Linked DNA regions of Homo sapiens: region 1 is linked to region 2. Evidence: fine-mapped QTL for protein levels in blood plasma. A gene starts in region 2. The other region holds a variant in brackets. All regions are shown on one strand. Distances are from middle to middle.

Region 1 (9,428 bases), 180 kb before region 2:
TGCATCACCACACTCAACTAATTTTTTTTTTTTTTTTTGAGACAGAGTCTCACTCTGTCACTCAGGCTGGAGTGTAATGGTGTGTTCTTTGCTCACTGCAACCTCCGTCTCCTGGGTTCATGCAATTCTCCTGCCTCAGCCTCCCAAGTAGCTGGGATTGCAGGCATCCACCACCATGCTTGGCTAATTTTTGTATTTTTAGTAGAGACACGGTTTCACCAGGCTGGTCTTGAACTCCTAGCATCAGGTGATCCACCCACCTCGGCCTCCCAAAGTGCTGCACACCCAGCTAATTAAAAATTTTTTTGTACAGACAGGATCTTGCTATGTTGTCCAGGCTGGTCTTGAACCCTTGACCTAAAGAAATCCCTCTGCCTTGGCCTCCCAAAGCACTGGGATTACAGGAGTGAGCCACTGCACCTCAGCCAGCATGACTTCTTAAAATAAAAAGTAGGAGAGAGATGGATTTCAACACAAACCCCAAACACTAAAGATATAAATATAATACAACATCCAACGTCAACACTATCTTCTTTCCCTGACTTGTCTTGTTTCCAACCGCAGCACACACAAGATCTTTCTCTATGCCCAACTTTTATCTTCACCCTTCTCCGCTATCATTTTACCTGATTGTCAAAGCACATCTCGACTGAGAACTGAATTTTGTCAGCTACAACACCTCCACTGGGAAAAATGGCATAGATCACCAGGGAAGGATCAGGGGCCAGTCTCGAAGTGAAGGTCAGTGAGAGAGAGAAGGAGGCTTTCAGTCCTGAAAGAGAAGAGGGAATATACAGGAAAATCAGAATGCACATTCACCTGCCAACGGCATCTAACCATATGTACTTTTCACTGAGCCAGTGCAGGCACCATGGTGCAAGTTACTTCTCATTTTTCTCTTCTCCTGTGATAACTGTTAGTGCTCCAATTCCATTACTTCTGTGGATAAGAATTTTTTTATTTTATTTTATTTTATTTTATTTATTTTTTTTTTTTTTTGAGACGGAGTCTCGCTCTGTCGCCCAGGCTGGAGCGCAGTGGCATGATCTCGGCTCACTGCAAGCTCCGCCTCCCGGGTTCACGCCATTCTCCTGCCTCAGCCTCCCGAGTAGCTGGGACTACAGGGGCCCGCCCCGACGTCCGGCTAATTTTTTTTTGTATTTTTAGTAGAGACGGGGTTTCACCATGTTAGCCAAGATGGTCTCGATCTCCCGACATCGTGATCCGCCCACCTCGGCCTCCCAAAGTGCTGGGATTACAGGCATGAGCCACCGCGCCTGGCCAAGAATTGTTTTCTGGAATTTAAAAATATCCTGTTTGCTTCCGGGAAAAGCATGTACACTCACCTTTCTTCTTAGAGTTCAGGTGTTTCTGCCCCTCCATCACCAAACTTCCTTTCCCTATTAACTAAAGAAGAAAAGAAAAGAATCAACTGCACAGAAGTTACAGTAATTTCACCTTGGACCAACTTCCAGAGCATCTCTGCATCCCTTCATGAGGAGAGGTTCCTTTCACAGTTCAGAGTCCGGGTCAATACCTCACCCAGCATCCACTAGCTTGACAAATGCAGGATGCTGCCAACGGGTCCTGGTGGCTCCTCCTGCAGTTGGAGGTCTGGCTGAGAACCACGCAGGTGGATGGGAGGAGTCTGACAGCATAGAAATTGTTCCTCACCATAGATAACTGTCTGCCATTTCTTGAAGATCTCCAAATTTTATTTTCTTATAATCTTTGTAACAGAAAGTCAGCGAAAATCTATCCTCATAAGTGTTTTTTAATTACAGCTCAATTTAAAATTCAGTGGAAATAATTTCATCCTAAACCACCCTGAGCCCTTCTGACATTGAACCCTCTAGAGGAGAAATCTCCTCTTCTAACTCCCCCTTCCCGTCCACTCTCACTTGAAACAGAACTCGGTGATCTTGTTTGCAAGCAGGCTCTCATCCCACGCTCCTGCAGGGCTCCAAGGTCGGTTCCTTGGACGCCTGCCCAGCATTAGCCATTCCACGTGGCTCGGCCCTAACTTCACTTTTGTCCTACACCTCCCCACACTTCGGTCCTGAAGACAGAGCCCGCTTTATCACTGGACTTGTTATTTTCCACCTATCTTTTCTCTTTTCGTTGTATTAGGATGATTTTTTTTTTTTCACTTAACGACAACACTGAAACCATGGAAGCTACTGCAATGATCCAGAGGGGAGAAAGTCTCTCATAGACTGACAGGAGGATAACGGAACAAAGAGGCTCCGAGCCATCAAACCTGAGGTTTCCATTCTACTTCCTGACTGTCACCAAGGTGACAGGAAAGCTGCTTATCCTTATACATTGCTTTCAGGCTACCAAGTTATGATTTTATTTCCCCAATGAGGCTGCTATCGATGTGAATTTAACCCCATATCATCTATTTGATAATATTGACCAATGGAACACAGAATGAAATGTATCCTGGCTGGGCTCGGTGGCTCATGCCTGCAGTCCCAGCACTTTGGGAGGCCAAGGTGGGCAGATCACCTGAGGTCAGGAGTTCAAGACCAGCCTGGCCAACATGGCGAAACCCTGTCTCATATAAATTAAAAAAAAAAAAAAAGTATCCTGAGTCCCATCCCTCCCCACTCTCCCTCCCAACCACCCAGCTGGTTTTGTTTTTGTTTTTGTTTTTTTTGGTCCTGGCCAGCACTATTTTCTCAGGTAATTCCTCATTTTATTTTCCCACACAATTTTCCTGTGTTCCTGCTCAGAATCTCTTTCTTCCCCCAATGTTTTCCATCTCTTACACCTATACTGGGCCATGCAGTATCTCATAGCCACATAGGAATATTGAATACTTGAGGCCGGGCGCGGTGGCTCATGCCTGTAATCCCAGCACTCTGGGAGACTGAGGCAGGTGGATCACGAGGTCAGGAGATCGAGACCATCCTAGTTAACATGGTGAAACCCCGTCTCTACTAAAAATACAAAAAAAATTAGCTGGGCGTGGTGGCGGGCGCCTGTAGTCCCAGCTACTTGGGAGGCTGAGACAGGAGAATGGCGTGAACCTGGGAGGTGGAGCTTGCAGTGAGCCAAGAACACACCACTGCACTCCAGCCTGGGCAACTGAGCGAGACTGTGTCTCAAAAAAAAAAAAAAAGAAAAAAAAAGGAATATTGAATACTTGAAATGTGCTCAGTCCAAACTGAGATACGCTTTAAGTGTAAAATACATACTGAGTTTCAAAGACACCGTTGAAACAAGAATGTAAAATATCTATTAAAACTTTTTATATGGCTTTCGTGTTAAAATGTTAATATTTTGGATATAATGGGTTAAATAAAAAATACATTTAAAATTAATGTCAACTGTTCTTTTACTTTTTTAGTGTGGCTTTAAAATTGTTTTTAATTAGATGTGCATCTGCAATTCAGATAGCCTAGGTGCACCCTCTGGCTGACTCTTCTCATTCTCTTTCCTTCCCAGCATACTCTCACCCGTCCCCGTTTCCCGGTCTCACATAGTAGGAGAAGCTGATCTCTTGGTCAGGGCTTGCATCGGCCGGGTCGATGTAATAATCCACCAGCACTTCCTGGGGCTGGCCACATTTCAAGGGGCCGTTTAGCCGGTGGATGCCAAGGAAGCTGCGGGTTGTGCTGTAGAAGGGTCGCAGGTGCAGGTAGGCATTTTGGTAGTAACGTGGCACTTGTTCCGGATTATATACTAAGTCTTCCATTTGAAACTTTCCCTGAGAATAAAAGAGAGAGAGAGAATTTTAGCATGTGCTCCAACCATGGAAACCCCACGGACTTGTTACGGTTTTCAAATAGAGCTCTTTCTCTCAAATCTTCACTGCCTGAGAATGGCATGTGGGTATTTCATTAGCGGTCCAGCCAAGGATGGATAAAGAATCCATAAACGTAGCTGTGTACAGCAATATTTTGGTATGTAGGAGAGCGACAGAAGGGCTGAATTATAGTTACTAAATGAGAGGAAATTGTGGGTGATGTATCTTCACAGATATTCCTGGGATAGATGAACGTGACTTAGATTATATAGAAATCAAAGATTATATTTCAGGGATAAGAAAACTAGGCACAGAAGACACTAAGATTGAAAAATAATTATTTCTGAGTAACTGAGTCATGCCTAGAGTAAAGAAATAGTCAAATTAGCCACAAGGCAAGTAGTATGTGTTTGCTTAAGTCCTGAGGTTGAACGATCTCATTAATGGCTCCAATTCCTCACACGCACCCCGCCCCCTCC[G/A]AGATCAGCATCCTTGAGCATGTGGTCTTCCAGTACCCTCCTAGTCTGTGCCCACTGTTCGATTTGTTGGGAAAGGGGTGTTAACATATGCAACAGGGGCCGGGCGCGGTGGCTCACGCCTGTAATCCCAGCACTTTGGGAGGCCAAGGCGGGCGGATCACGAGGTCAGGAGATCGAGACCATCCTGGCTAACACAGTGAAACCCCATCTCTACTAAAAAATACAAAAAATTAGCCGGGCGTGGTGGCAGGCGCCTGTAGTCCCAGCTACTCGGGGAGGCTGAGGCAGGAGAATGGCGTGAACCGGGGAGGCGGAGCTTGCAGTGAGCCGAGATCACGCCACTGCACTCCAGCCTGGGTGACAGAGTGAGACTCTGTCTCAAAAAAAAAAAAAAGAAAAAAACATATGCAATATACAGAGGTTTGGAAAAGCCCTGAACATCAGCTTTTGCACTTGCACCTCATCACTGCCATAAGAATATACCTGGGCTAGCTGGCTCCTGCATGAGAGGCATGCGGAGCAGCAGCTTATGGCCAGCCGATCTGCAGACAGTTCTGGAAATCGAAATCAGCAGAGCTGCCTGACTGAATGCCCCAGATGCACAAGCAGTGAATGCTTTCTGCTGCACGATACTGAAGTTTGTAGCTGTTTGATAAGAAGCATTGTTGTGGCAGTTGATAATTGATACTTATAAGTTATCTAGAATCTAGAGTTCTCTTGTTTGCTGTTTTTATTAAGTAATGAGGGGATGGGAAGGGGAAAGAGAAAGAAAAAGACTCTGAGTCACCTATTCCTCCCTGCTCTAACTTCATATATAGATAGGATCAGATAGAGATGGGGGTAAGTTAAAAGATGTATTAGTAGAAATAGTAGTTTTCATCCAAGTAAGGACTATTTATTTGATTGATATTAAAAACAGAAAGCATCTAAGGAAAACTTTTTGTCAACGGGAGAGCAGGACTTGTGAGTGAGAAAGATGTAATTCCAAGCAGAGGGGAGAATAGGAAACAGGAAAATTCTGAAGTTTTCCTTCAGGGAAGCCTTCCTTTCTAGGAAGCTGGTCCTCCGTCCATGCTTACCTCCAGAGAAACGTCTGTCCCATTCCAACCGGATGTCTCCAAGGTAAAGGGAGCTAGGCCATTGTTATCAGTAACCAGGGTCTGGTTGAAGGTTCCATTTGTGCCATAAATCACCAGAAACACTAGATGGTTCTTGAGGAAGGAGTCATCATGGCCCCTAACTCTTATCTGAAGGACAAAGATCATTACGGATTAGAATTAGGTTTGGAGTAAGCTTGAGTATGAGGTAAAGTGAAATATTAGGTTGGTGCAAACTAATTGTGGTTTTTGGCACTAAAAGTAATAACAGAATTTCTAAGAATACATTTCAGGAAAGAGTCCTGAAAAAGATAAATGTGATTCAAGCTTTTGAACTAGGATCTGTGAGGAACCGAAAAACAAACAGAAGTAACAGCCCAGAGCAGAGCTAGATTTGCCCGGTGGCTAATGAAGCTTCAGGGCTCTTCATATGCACAGGCTCCTTCAAAGGTTCTGCACGTTGTTTTGCTTTCTTTTTTCTTTCCTTCCTTCCTTCCTTCCTTCCGTCCTTCCTTCCTTCCTTCCTTCCTTCCTTCCTTCTTTCCTTCCTTCTTTCCTTCCTTCCTTCCTTCTTTCCTTCCTTTCTTCCTTCCTTTCTTTCTTTTTTTTTTTGAGATGGAGTCTCAGTCTGTCGCCCAGGCTGGAGTGCAGTGGGACGAGCTCAGCTCACTGCAACCTCTACCTCCTGGGTTCAAGCGATTCTCCTGCCTCAGCCTCCCAAGTAGTGGGACTATAGGCCCGTGCCACCATACCTGGCTAATTTTTGTATTTTTAGCAGGGACGGGTTTTCACCATGTTGGTCAGGCTGGTTTCGAACTCCTGACCTCGTGATTCGCCCGCCTCAGCCTCCCAAAGTGCTGAGATTACAGGCATGAGCCATTGTGCCCAGCCTATTTTGCTTTCTTTTTCTTAAAGCGAATCCCCTACCCTCCCAAACTGTGTAATCCTTAGGCTCTAAAAATAATTTGCACCCACCCTTGGTCTAGAGAAATGATAACTGAGGAATAAATGCATCTCTATGTGTGCAATATTATTGTGTGGACCAGCTGTACAAGAAGTAAAGAAAGATAAGCTGAACAAGAGAGAAATTCAGTTAGATATCAGAAAGAAAACACTAGCAAAGAAAATTTAATTATGTATTTATCTTTTTTTTTTTTTTTTGAGACAGTCTCGCTCTATCGCCCAGGCTGGAGTGCAGTGGCATGATCTTAGCTCACTGCACCCCCTGCCTCCTGTGTTCAAGCCATTCTCGTGCCTCAGACTCCCGAGTAGCTGGGATTATAGGCATGCGCCACCATGCCTGGCTAATTTTTGTATTTTTAGCAGAGACAAGTTTTCGCCATGTTGGCCAGGCTGGTCTCGAACTCTTGGCCTCAAGTGATCTGCCCACCTCAGCCTCCCAAAGTGCTAGGACTGCAGACGTGAGCCACCACGCCCTGCCGGAAATTTTAAAATCTCTAAAGAAAATTGCTAGTCAGGCACAGTGGCTCACTCCTGTAATCCCAGCACTTTGGGAGGCCCAGGTGGACGGATCACCTGAGGTCGGGAGTTCAAGACCAGCCTGACCAACATGGAGAAACCCCATCTCTACTAAAAATACAAAATTAGCCAGGCATGGGGACACATGTCTGTAATCCCAGCTACTCAGGAGGCTGAGACAGGAGAATCGCTTGAACCTGGGAGGTGGAGGTTGCGGTGAACAGAGATCGCGCCATTGCACTTCAGGCTGGGCAACAAGAGCGAGACTGTCTCAAAACAAAACAAAACAAAACAAAAACAGAAAGAAAAACAAAATTGCTTACAGAGCTATACATGGCTGTCAAGGAAAGTTTCATATTAACCTTGCCTAGATGCAGGAGACCAGGCTGGATGATTTCTCTAGAAACCCTGCAGCTCTTAAATATGAAGATTTAGACATTAGAAGATCAGCCCCTGGCATTAGAAAGACCCCTAAGGTGTCATTAATATTCAAGGCACTTCTTCTATGGGATTGGGGCAGCAGAGTACAGGGAGTGGAGAGTGTATACCCGGGAGGCAGGCTTCCTGGATTTGGTCATAGTTCCCATCTATTTGTGATCACCTTGGAAAAATCACTTAGCCTCTGTTGCCTGTCTCAGTATCCATAAAATGGGGCCAATACAGTGCCTGCCTCATTGCATTATTCTAAAGATTAAAATGAATACACATAAAGTACTTGGAACAGCACTAAGTTAGCTATGTGGCTATGGCTGCAGGAAGGAGGCAAAGTAGATGGTTATGCATTTTTTTGTCTATGCAGAGAAAAGTTTTAACATACCTTCCCACTGAAGGGGAAATTTGGATGGTAAAAATTGCTGGTGTCTTCAAAGGTCATTGATCCCATTTGTGGAGAAATGTAGATATTCTGAGTGGCATTGGCCTCCACACCTGCAGAGGGAAACCAGATGTATAAAGATCTAGGCACCTGATATTCTCATCTTCACGTTTAATGTCAAGTCTCTGAGAGAATGGTGGCAGAGGGATGAAGTTGAATGTATTTCTGGCCAAAGATCCAAACCAACCTCACCTCCCCAATCTTTTGGAGAAGTATGTAGTATTTCTTCTTTTTTTTTTTTTTTTTTTTTTAAGATGGAGTCTCGCTCTGTTGCCCAGGCTGGAGTGCAGTGGCACGATCTCGGCTCACTGCAAGCTCCACCTCCTGGGTTCACGCCATTCTCCTGCCTCAGCCTCCCCGAGTAGCTGGGACTACAGGCGCCCCCGTCACCATGCCCGGCTAATTTTTTGTATTTTTAGTAGAGACAGGGTTTCACCGTGTTAGCCAGGATGGTCTCGATCTCCTGACCTCGTGATCTGCCCGTCTCGGCCTCCCAAAGTGCTGGCATTACAGGCGTGAGCCACCATGCCCGGCCCGTAGTATTTCTTATAGATGGCAAGATGGGATCTGGTATTTCCCCTTGACTATGAACTAGGAACAAGGTACCATCCAAACACTCAAGAGGGTAGGTCTTGTATACTTGGAGTAAATCTGTCCCTGGGACCAGCCCTTTTTCTTTCTCTTTTCTTAATGAGCCAAGGAGCACCCTACTTACCTGTCCCTTCCTCCACAACAGTAGCCACAATATTGATTTGATGGCTGTACGCATATCCAATGAGGTCAAAGGTGGCCATGTCCACAGGTGCTGAGAAACATCCTGTTTTGTCAGTCTAGTGAGGTGATCAGAGACAGAGATAGAGAGCAGATGAGGAATCTAATCTCTACATCCATTTTATAATGTTCTGTAGAAGGAAATAATTTCTCATCTCCACACTTCAGTTTCTAATATAGAAAAACTCTCCTACAACATGAAGTATACACTTGCACATAGATAATCATGAAATGACTTTGAAGCTCCAAGATTTGGGAAAGGGAAAAAGAAATGCCTTCAAAACTGGAAAATTGTACCTTACTGGGGTTTAGGTCAATTTCTTGGTTCCAAGGCAGACTCTAAAACACTCCCTGTTTAGGATAAAGATCCCTGCTTTGTTCTTTGGAACTGGGATGATAATTCTGGGAAATGCTTTCTACTTTGGGCTGTTTAGCTCTTTTCTAGATTGTTGCTTCCTTACGCTTTAGGACATGTGGATACGTTCTTTTTTTTTTTTTTTTTTCGGTGGGGGAGGGGGACTGAGTGTTGCTCTGTCACCCACGCTGGAGTGCAGTGGCACCATCTCGGCTCATTGCAACCTCCGCCTCCCGGGTTCAAGTGATTCTCCTGTCTCAGCCTCCAAGTAGCTGGGATTTCAGGTGCACACCACCATGCCCAGCCAATTTTTTGAATTTTTAATAGAGACGGGGTTTCCCCATATTGGTCAGGCTGGTCTCAAACTCCTGACCTCGTGATCCGCCCATCTCGGCCTCCCAAAGTGCTGGGATGACAGGCGTGAGCCACCGTGCCTGGCCGATAGGTTCCTTTTTAACCTGTCATTTACTCACCTGTCCAGAGAGGTTCCTGCATTTGTCAGGAAGCTGTTCCCGTTCCACCTCTCGATACCAGTAAGTATTTGCCTTCTGACACACAGATACCTGCACTGCCCCTAGCATGGGCTTTCCATAGGTGTACCTAACCAAGAAAAGCATAA
Region 2 (9,428 bases):
TATAATTTATAAAACTATATTATATAGATGTGCTGAAATTACTAATTATATGAGTTATTATTAATAACTATATACATTGAACTTTCCTGTTTTAAACCATATTTGCAAATTCCAGAGTTTCTCTCTCTCTTTTTTATTTTGGCAGGTAGAATGAGAAGATGGATGAATGAATTTTTAGAACTTGTCCTGTTTTGTTTGTCTATAGCCAGTTTTATCAGAGTTATTTATATCTTTTTAGTTGTGGGTTCAGGAACTTGAGCAGAATCTTAAACCTGGATCAAACATTTTACGTCTGTGTGGTCAAGAAAGTATGACTGTAACAGTGTAAGACCGACTACCAGTGCCATCAGAAAATTTACACAAAGCAAAATGATGAGACAGAAGCACTAATTATTGTAGATATAAATTATATATGTTTTACGTGAAATAACTTTTACAGTCTTACTGCTAAAATTCCTTTAAGACTAGCTGTTGCCCAATTTTTCTGCTTTGGGGGAGCCTATTCCTTTTTGTTCTATTGCCCCCATATCACTTCAATACATTGATTGCTTGTTCCATTTGCTGAACTCCATGTATACTCTCAAACTGCTTACTTCCCTAAAACGTTATCCTCTACCCCCTTGCATTTGACTAAGTCTTTGAATGTTAATATTTCAAAAATAGGAAGTTACTATTTCAAGTCTTCATCTCAATTCAATCCAGTTGACCAAATTTAGATAATTTTTTTTTTTGAGACAGGGTCTCACTGTGTTGCCCAGGAGGGAGTGTAGTGACACAGTCATAGCTCACTGCAGCCTAGACCTCCTGGGTTCAAGTAATCCTCCTGCCTTAGCCTCCTAAGTAGCTGGGACCACAGGCATATGCCACCATGCCTAATTAAAAACAATTTTTTGGCCAGGTGTGGTGGCTCATGCCTGTAATCCCAACACTTCAGGAGGCAGAGGTCGGTGGATCACCTGAGGTCAGGAGTTTGAGACCAGCCTGGCCAACATGGTGAAACCCTGTCTCTGCTAAAAAGTACAAAAATTAGCTGAGTGTGGTGGCAGGTGCCTGTAATCTCAGCTACTTGGGAGGCTGAGGCAGGAGAATCGCTTGAACTCGGGAGGCAGAGGTTGCAGTGAGCTGAGATTGTGCCATTGCACTCTGGCCTGCGTGACAGAGTGAAACTCTGTCTCAAAAAAAAAAAAAAAAAAAAAGGCCGGGCGCGGTGGCTCACATCTGTAATCCCAGCACTTTGGGAGGTGGAGGCAGGCAGATCACGAGGTCATGAGATCAAGACCATCCTGGCTAACACGATGAAACCCCGTCTCTACTAAAAATACAAAAATTATCCAGGCATGGTGGTGGGCACCTGTAGTCCCAGCTACTCGAGAGGCTGAGGCAGAAGAATAGCGTCAGCCTGGGAGGCAGAGCTTGCAATGAGCTGAGATTGCGCCACTGCACTCCGGCCTGGGTGACAGAGCGAGACTCTGTTTCAAAAAAAAAACAATTTTTTTTTTTTTTTTTTTTTTTTTTTTTTTTTTTTGTAGAGACAAGGTCTTGCCATGTTGCCCAGGCTGCAAATTTTGAGTTTTAATGTGCTAACCATTATGTCACCTAAAGAGGAGTAAGACAGCCTCTTCCATCAAGAAACACTCAGCCTAGGCTAGGGGCAGTGGCTCACGCTTATAATTCCAGCACTTTGAGAGGCCGAGGCAGGGGGATGACTTGAGCCCAGGAGTTCGATACCAGCCCGGGCAACATAGTGAGACCCCATTTCTATAAAAAATAAAAAACTAAGAAAAGAAACCCTCAGCCTAATAAGGATTAAAGATATGTAAAAGAGTTTAATAAAGTGGATTATATAATTATACAAATAAACAAAGAGTTGGTTTAATAGAGGGAATGATGAACTCTTTAGAGGCAGAGGAGACCAGGAAAGGTTTCTGGCAGGAGGCGACATCTAGGCCGGATTTTGATGGACAAACAAGTGTTCCCTAGCTTCAGTTTTCTAAGGACATATGTCTTTTGGCATCTAAGTCCATCTTTTGTGTTTGGCTGTTACTACTTCATTGCTTCATTCCTCTACACACACCACTCCCTCTCCCTGCCCTCCCTGCCTCATATAACCTTCCCCCTTTCTTTTCCTTCCTTTTATGGGAAATTTTTTGTGTGTGTGTTTAGCTCCTGGGTTTAATTTAGTTGGATGGGACTGTAGTAATAACGTTTCTGTACATTTGCCCAGAGGCCTTCAGCTAATGGGTGTATTCTTTACAAGCCAATAAACAGATGAATAAAACCAGCTTGACATCTCGCATCTCTGTCTCTCTCCTCTTTCTTTGCCCTTTGCCCATCTTTCACAGACATTTTATAAAAACGAAAATTTTCCTGGGTAACTCAAACATAGATTGCCTTCATTAAGTCACTTCTACACGCGCCAGTCAGTCCCATGAGGGGCTTTCTTATTGCTGGAGAATGTGTTGTCTACCCTCAGGAGATCCAGCCTATATGGGATGGAAGTATGGATTGCTACTCAGTGAGTCAAAAAGAACCCCAGAAAATTATGGACTTGTAACTCTGGATGGCATTTGCTCGTTTCTGACCATTGGTGCTGATTTTGACTTGATGTCATTAAATGATTAATTAATGTACAATGCAACAGAGGCTGACAAAATCACCCTGAGAAAAGCAAATCTGAGGATCTCTAAGCCTGGGGATCCAAACCTGGGCTCTGAGAACAAATGGGGAACTGTAGTAGAATAAAGGGCCCGCCATAGTTGCCATGAAAAAATTAACCAACCTTGGCCAGGTGTGGTGTCTCACACCTGTAATCCCAGTACTTTGGGAGGCTGAGGGGAGCAAATCACTTGAGGTTAGGAGTTCGAGACCAGCCAGGCCAACATGGCGAAACCCCCTCTCTACTAAAAATACAAAAATTAGCCGGGCCTGGTGGCGGATGCCTGTAATCCCAGTTACTAGGGCAGGAAAATCACTTGAACCCAGAAGACGAAGGTTTCAGTGAGCCAAGTTCACGCCACTACACTCCAGCTTGGGCAACAGAGCGAGACTCTATCTCACAAAAAAAAAAAAAAAAAAAAAAAGAAACTAACCAACCTTGAAACAAACTGCATTCTCAAAAGTCTTTAAAACCCAACAATATATGGTTGTCCTGCTCTTCTGCCAGTTCCTGTCTCACTACCTCTCCTTTCCTTCTAGGATGCTACTCCCTGCCTGTTCTCTTCTTCAGCCCTGCTCTGAACATTCTGTTCCTATTTTCACTGCCCCAACTCCAGACTACCTCCTACAACCCCAGGAGAACGCCCCCTCCCACTGCCTGGGGAGGCTCTCCTAAACTATAGCCTCTAGCCAGGCCAGCACATTGAGGTCATTGCTCTCCCTGCCAAATGACTGGCCTGAGTTCAGTGTCTCCATCTGTCTGAGCTTCATGGAAAACTTGATTGTTGCTCTAGGCTCTCTATTCTATGTCCTGCCTTAGCTATGTCCTGCTTTGCATCTGCTTTTTTGTTTCTTCTCCCAACACCCTTTTCTTCCCCTGACTCTCCTCAGACTAGAATCACATCTGTTTTCTAGTCTCAGCCCCTTCACTGGGGAGCAGATGGAAGAAGAGCAAGTTCTGGGGCAGGAAGATCAGGAAGAGCTGGGCGTAGCACTCAGCTTGTTCTGCGGACTGACCAGATTCCATGTATCTTAGAGATGTAGCACTTACAGCTCCCTCGGAGGTCCCAGAGGTGCTTACAAAGTGCGATTTGCTTATTTCTGTGTCCACTGCTCTTTTTTCCTCTCAACTAGACTCCTTCCTTCCTTCTTTCCTTCTTTCCTTCCTTCCATCATACCCCCTTTTATTTTCTTCTAGTATGTAATTTATTAATACTATCTGCTCTCTGTCTACCTGTACTCTTCTCTAATTTATTTCATCAGGGAGATATATAATGTAGACTAAAGGGGAGCCAACAGGAAACCTGAAACTTACATATTTCTATGGCATACAAGGTCCACCATTCCTCAGACTTGAGTTTCTGTAATTCAAGTTTGCTCTTGAATCCAAAGCGGGAATGTTTTAGTGGTTGAACCACTAGAGTCTCTGTGAATAAGAAGAAATACAAAGCCTTTAAAATTCCTGAATCAAGGCTGAGCAACATAGCAAAATCCTGTCTCTACAAAAAAATACATCTAAATTCGCCTGGCATAGTGGCATGCACCTGTAGTCCCAGCGACTTAGGAGGCTGAGGCAGGAGGATCACTTGAGCCCAGGTCAAGCCTGCAGTGAACTGTGATCATGCCACTGTACTCCAGCCTGGGTGACAGAGCAAGACCCTATCTTAAAAAAAAGAAAAAATCCTGGATCAGAGAAAGTGTTATCTACACATTATATGATCTAAGGAAAAATATTGGTAGAAAATGAGGCAAGCATAATAACCTTGCCTTTCAATTTTCTTTGGGCATCTGATTGCATTTTATCCTTAAGAGCCCAGAAACCCAGATTCTTAGTTAAGCTCAAACAAAGCCAAAAGACAAAGTAAGGCTGGCACCCCTTTCACAGAGCTTCTCTACATTTGAAAATGATTTGGAGAGTTCTGAAAAGTTCCTCAACTTTTTATAACCCTAAGGTAGCCAGCCTTCCTCTTGGACAAAACTCATAAGGTATCTGTGTTCGCTTGGTTGTGAGAATACATAGGATATTCCAAGGGGAAAAAAAACAAGAAGAGTCTAAATGTGTAGGTCAAGAAAGAGGCAGAGATGAAAAAGAAATACAGGAATAAAAAGAAATTTGTTAGTGCTGAAGAGACGAATATTGAAAAAGAAAGTGAGAAAGAAGGATGAAGGAATGATTCAAATATGGAATATAAGGAGGCTGAGGCAGGATAATTGCTTGAACTCAGGAGGCGGAGGTTGCAGTGAGCCAAGATCACATCATTGCACTCCAGCCTGGGTGACAGGAGCAAAACTCTGTCTTAAAAAAAAAAAACAAAAAACAAAGAAGAAGAAGATAGCCAGAGAGAGAGAAACAGCATCTATAATGTGCATTAAAACACACCAAGGAGGAGACGGAACTTTTCGGTAAGAAAGAACCCAAGGAACAAAGGGGAGCTGGGACCAGATCGTGAGAGGAGGGAAAATAGGCTAATGGAAGAAAGGCAATACATGAGCTGGGGCCAACACTTCCAGGGAGCAGCAAGAGCTCTCACCAGTGTAGTCATAACATTTGGAATGAGGGTGTGAGCAACTGCAAATTCCCATCTCCCTTCTCATTCCAGCCTCATTGTAACACACATTCTACGCCTAGCCTGGCTTTCTTGCTCTCCCTCATCTCATTGTTTCAGCGGAGGCCAAATCTGAAGTCCTTTCCAGGGAGTGGCTCTGTTCATCTTATTCGCCAGCCAAAGTAGGAACAGCGTAAGAGGAGAGAGACACATTCAGCAGCCAAAGGACTCGGTGGAAAGAGCAGAACACCATAGACAGTGAGTTATTTGATTACCTGAAACCCTAAAGAGACAGAGGGAATGTGTGTATGTCTGTGTGTGTGTGAAAGGGCTGGAGGGGGCAATGGGGAATGTCACTGAACTTAGTCTTGAGCAGACCTCCCAAATAACCGTGGAATTCTGATGAAGGAGACGCCAAGATGAGCAGATGATATGAAAAAGTCACGCATATGAGAAAGGAAGATTCCACATCAGGGGTGAAAGAGGCCAAAGGGTAGGGCCAAGTACGGACCATGTAGAATGTAAAATTTCCTCTGACTTGGTAGCAGAGAATAATAAAAGCAAGAATAATGGTAAGTGACCAAGGAATAGATTTGAGGGAGAAATGAATGTTGGGTGAAAGGTAAGAAAAGAGAGAAAGGGTTTGAGTCATAAGGGAAAATGAAGAAAGTTCTGGGAAGACAAAGAGACAGGGACCTCAGAGGCATCTTTCCCTGGCACTGAAATGCTGATGTGCCTCTGAGCATCACATTCTCTGCTATGCCCACCACCCCTATAGATATGTCGCTCTTGGGACCCAAGGTGCTGCTGTTTCTTGCTGCATTCATCATCACCTCTGGTGAGTCCTTTATTCTTTGCTCCCTAAACCCTCAGCTCCTCAGCTATACACGTGTGTGGCAGGAGATGGGATGGAATGAGGTCGAAGAGGAATAGCAGTAGAGATGCTTGGTATTGAGCTCTGGAATTCCTATTAGAAGAACAGATTTTGTGTTAAGAAAAAAAGTTCAGGAATGTGACTAGACTTCAGACTAGGGGAAAGGCCTCCCAAGAATTATGAAACTAAGGTGCAACTAAGATACACACAAATGCATATTAACCACCCAAAGAGGGTCACATATGAGTAAACAAATTGCAAAGCAAAAAAGAAGCTGATATACAAATGCATACACAAACATAGAGGAGGGACTACCTAGAAAGAAACTGGACCTGGGCTGGGCATGGTGGGCTCACACCTATACTCCTAGCACTTTGGGAGACTGAGTGGAGAGGATCACTGAGACCAACCTGGGCAACATAGTGAGATGAGTTAACCTCATCTCCATTAAAAAAAAAAAGGAAAAAAGAAAAAAAGAAACTGGACCAAATGTAAATCTTGAAGAAGAACAGTGGGAATACATACACTATTACCATCATGCATGCAGGTATACTCACATGCATGCAAAAAATATATGCCATACTGACACACAAGAGAAAAGTGATCTTCACAGATTTCCCAGAATCTGGCTAGAAGACTGGCCACAGAAAGTGAACTTTAGGCTGTAAAGATGTCCTACTCTATTTTTTTCCCTCCTTCTTCCGATACAGATTGAGAAAAATAATTCTTCTGTCTTGTTCACTAGCATAGCTAGCGGGGAAGCCGTGGGGCTAGAAGGGCTGCCAGGCCTCTCAGTGGAGCTGGACTTCATTCCTGGCCAGGAATGAGGGTAAGAGGGCAGCAGGGCTTTGTTCTCAGGAACTTGTCTTTTTTTTCTTTTTACCAAACAAATGCACAGCAGTGAAGGAACTTGTCTTTCTGAAGTCTTTCTATTCCTATTGGTTTTGTTCATAGCACTAATGGTCTCAGTAATTTTATATTGAGCTATATAGGAATAAGTCACAAAGATAAAGTATAACCATTTCTCCATGATTTTCTGATTTGTCTCATAAAAGGGTTACGAGGTATAGAGCTGCAGTCACTCACATCTCTTTTCTCTTCCTTTGCTATAGACTGGATACCCCTGGGGGTCAATAGTCAACGAGGAGGTAGGTGAACCCTTGGATAGCGGCTCTGTTGGGGTTCTTATCAGGAAAATTTAGATGAACAGAGTTAAAAAATCCTTCCTGCTTATCTATCGCTGCCAAAAAAAAAAAAAAAAGAATATTTCCTACAACAAAGAGATGCATTGCCAAAGTGTGAGAAATAGGATCAACTTCACCAGTTTCCACAATCCTATTATCCCATTCATAAAAGCTTCTTGTGTGTGTGTTTTTAAACTACTGAAACACCTTCCCAAGACATCCTCTATGACCATTTCTGTTTTCATTTTTCTTTACACATCTCCTATCTTACTCAGAAAATGCTTACTAGTCCTTACAAAAAGCGTTCCTTAATTCATGTAACAGTGGAAAAATGAAAGACAGGATAAGAAGTCATCTTATACCCATAATCCCAGCACTTTGGGAGGCTGAGGCAGGAGGATCGCTTGAGCCCAGGAGTTTGAGACCAAACTGGGCAGCACAGGGAGACCTCATCTCTAGAAAAAAAAAAAATTAGCCTGGCATGGTGGCGCATGCCTGTGGTCCTAGCTACTCAGGAGGCTGAGGCATGAGAATGGCTTGAACCCAGGAGGCTGCGGTTGCAGTGAGCCATGATCATGCCATTGCACTCCAGCCTGGGCAACAGAGTGGAACTGACTAAAAAAAAAAAAAAAAAATTAGAAAAAAAGAAGTCATGTCAATCCTAGGTGAAATTGTGGCACAACTGAGCAAAACCCAAAAGGTATTTTTTGGTTTTTCAGCTTTTTAGGTAATTTTTGCTCACACCATTCTCTATAACAAAAATCCCAAAAGTTGTGACCCCTAGAGGACCACTTCCTTCGACTTCATGAAGAAAACTCCATTCTGCCTCAAGGCATTCAACATAATTATAATTTATCTCTTTATTTCTCCCATCCCAGGAGAGTTAGAGGACAGAGCGCTCCAGTAGGCAACCTATTAATGGGATCATGAAATCAATTTAGTGGGTCACAACTGGTATTAATTTTTAAAATGAATTAAGATAGACCAAAACAAATATACCGGGATGCATTGCATGTGTTTTGCAAGAGTAAAGTATTATTTCATACAACTTTAATAAAACTTCTCTTAGTTTTCCATATGTATATACCAGGGTACAGTATATTTTTCTTGCAGTGGGTCCTGGTACAGAAGATAAAAATACAAAAATTTTTTTTCTGTTGTTGGTAAAAATACCCGAATCCCCGAGTTTCTGAATCTAAATCTGAATCTAGGAAAAAAGGGCAGGAATGTGACTAGACTTCAGACTAGGGGAAAGGCCTCCCGAGATTTTAGTACCAGCAAAACTGAAAATCGGAATTCATTTTTCTGGGCTGATTAGGAACCAGTCCTGTGTTAAGACTTTAGATGCTTTTCTCGCAGACATATCATAAGGTATGATGAACTGTCTTGCCTGGTGTGGTGGCTCATGCCTGTAATACCAAGCACTTTGGGAGGTTGAGGTGGGATGATCACTTGAGGCCATGAGTTTGAGATCAGCCTGGGCAATATAGTGAGACCCTTTTATTTTTTTTTTTTTTCGAGACAGAGTTTCGCTCTTGTTACCCAGGCTGTAGTACAATTGCGCGATCTCGGCTCACTGCAACCTCCATCTCCCAAGTACAAGTGATTCTCCTGTCTCAGCCTCCTAAGTAGCTTGGATTATAGGCATGCGCCACCACAACTGGCTAATTTTTTGTATTTAGTAGAGACAGGGTTTCACCGTGTTAGTCAGGCTGGTCGCAAACTCCTGACCTCAGATGATCTGCAGGCCTCGGCCTCCCAAAGTGCTGGGATTACAGGTGTGAGCCACTGCTGCCAGCCTGAGACCCTATCTCTTAAAAAAAAAAAAAAAAAAGCCAGGTGTGGTGGTTTGCTGGTTGTCCTAGCTACTCAGAAGGCTGAGGTGAAAGGATCGCTTGAGCCCAGGAGTTCGAAGCTGCAAAGGAGCTATGATGGCACCACTGTACTGCAGCCTGGGCAACAGAGTGAGACTCTCTCAAAAAAAGAAAAGGAAAAGAAAATACGTTAATTTTTTTTTTCAGAGAGAACTTCATGAATACTAGATAAAGCATTTATATGGTGATAGCTCTTGGAACAGTTGGTTAAACTGAGGTATATGCAGAAAAGCAGTACTCTGCCCTGAAATCCCAGAGACAGCTAGGATACATTCTCAAGCCCTCTGTTCCCCCA

Direction of the effects. Positions count from the first base shown, and alleles are read on the strand shown. Strength reflects both the effect of a copy and how common the allele is.
In carriers of allele A in region 1, the plasma level of the protein whose gene starts at base 5,260 in region 2 tends to be higher than with G alone (weak association).

Evidence for each region. A credible set is the group of variants that fine-mapping cannot tell apart. PIP is the chance, under the fine-mapping model, that this variant and not a neighbour inherited with it causes the effect. Protein levels are from antibody-based Olink assays in UK Biobank. Linkage for the fine-mapping came from a reference panel and not from the study's own genotypes, which makes the PIPs less certain.
Region 1: its variant is the best candidate, but not a certain one, in a credible set for the plasma level of the MFAP5 protein (UK Biobank, PIP 0.65).

What each region holds. Positions count from the first base shown.
Region 1 is chr12:8,837,421-8,846,848 of GRCh38, reverse strand. A2ML1 (alpha-2-macroglobulin like 1) reads right to left here. Exons shown (of 36, transcript NM_144670.6): 8 at 9,283-9,409; 9 at 8,399-8,513; 10 at 7,627-7,736; 11 at 5,313-5,480; 12 at 3,488-3,715; 13 at 1,347-1,407; 14 at 627-772. Among named protein-coding and RNA genes, the nearest start is that of A2ML1-AS1, 11 kb to the right of the region's middle. The variant G/A (reference allele first, on the strand shown) is at 4,234.
Region 2 is chr12:8,658,658-8,668,085 of GRCh38, reverse strand. It overlaps MFAP5 (microfibril associated protein 5), which reads left to right and starts at 5,260. Exons shown (of 10, transcript NM_003480.4): 1 at 5,260-5,459; 2 at 5,980-6,039; 3 at 7,188-7,223. The coding sequence starts at 5,982.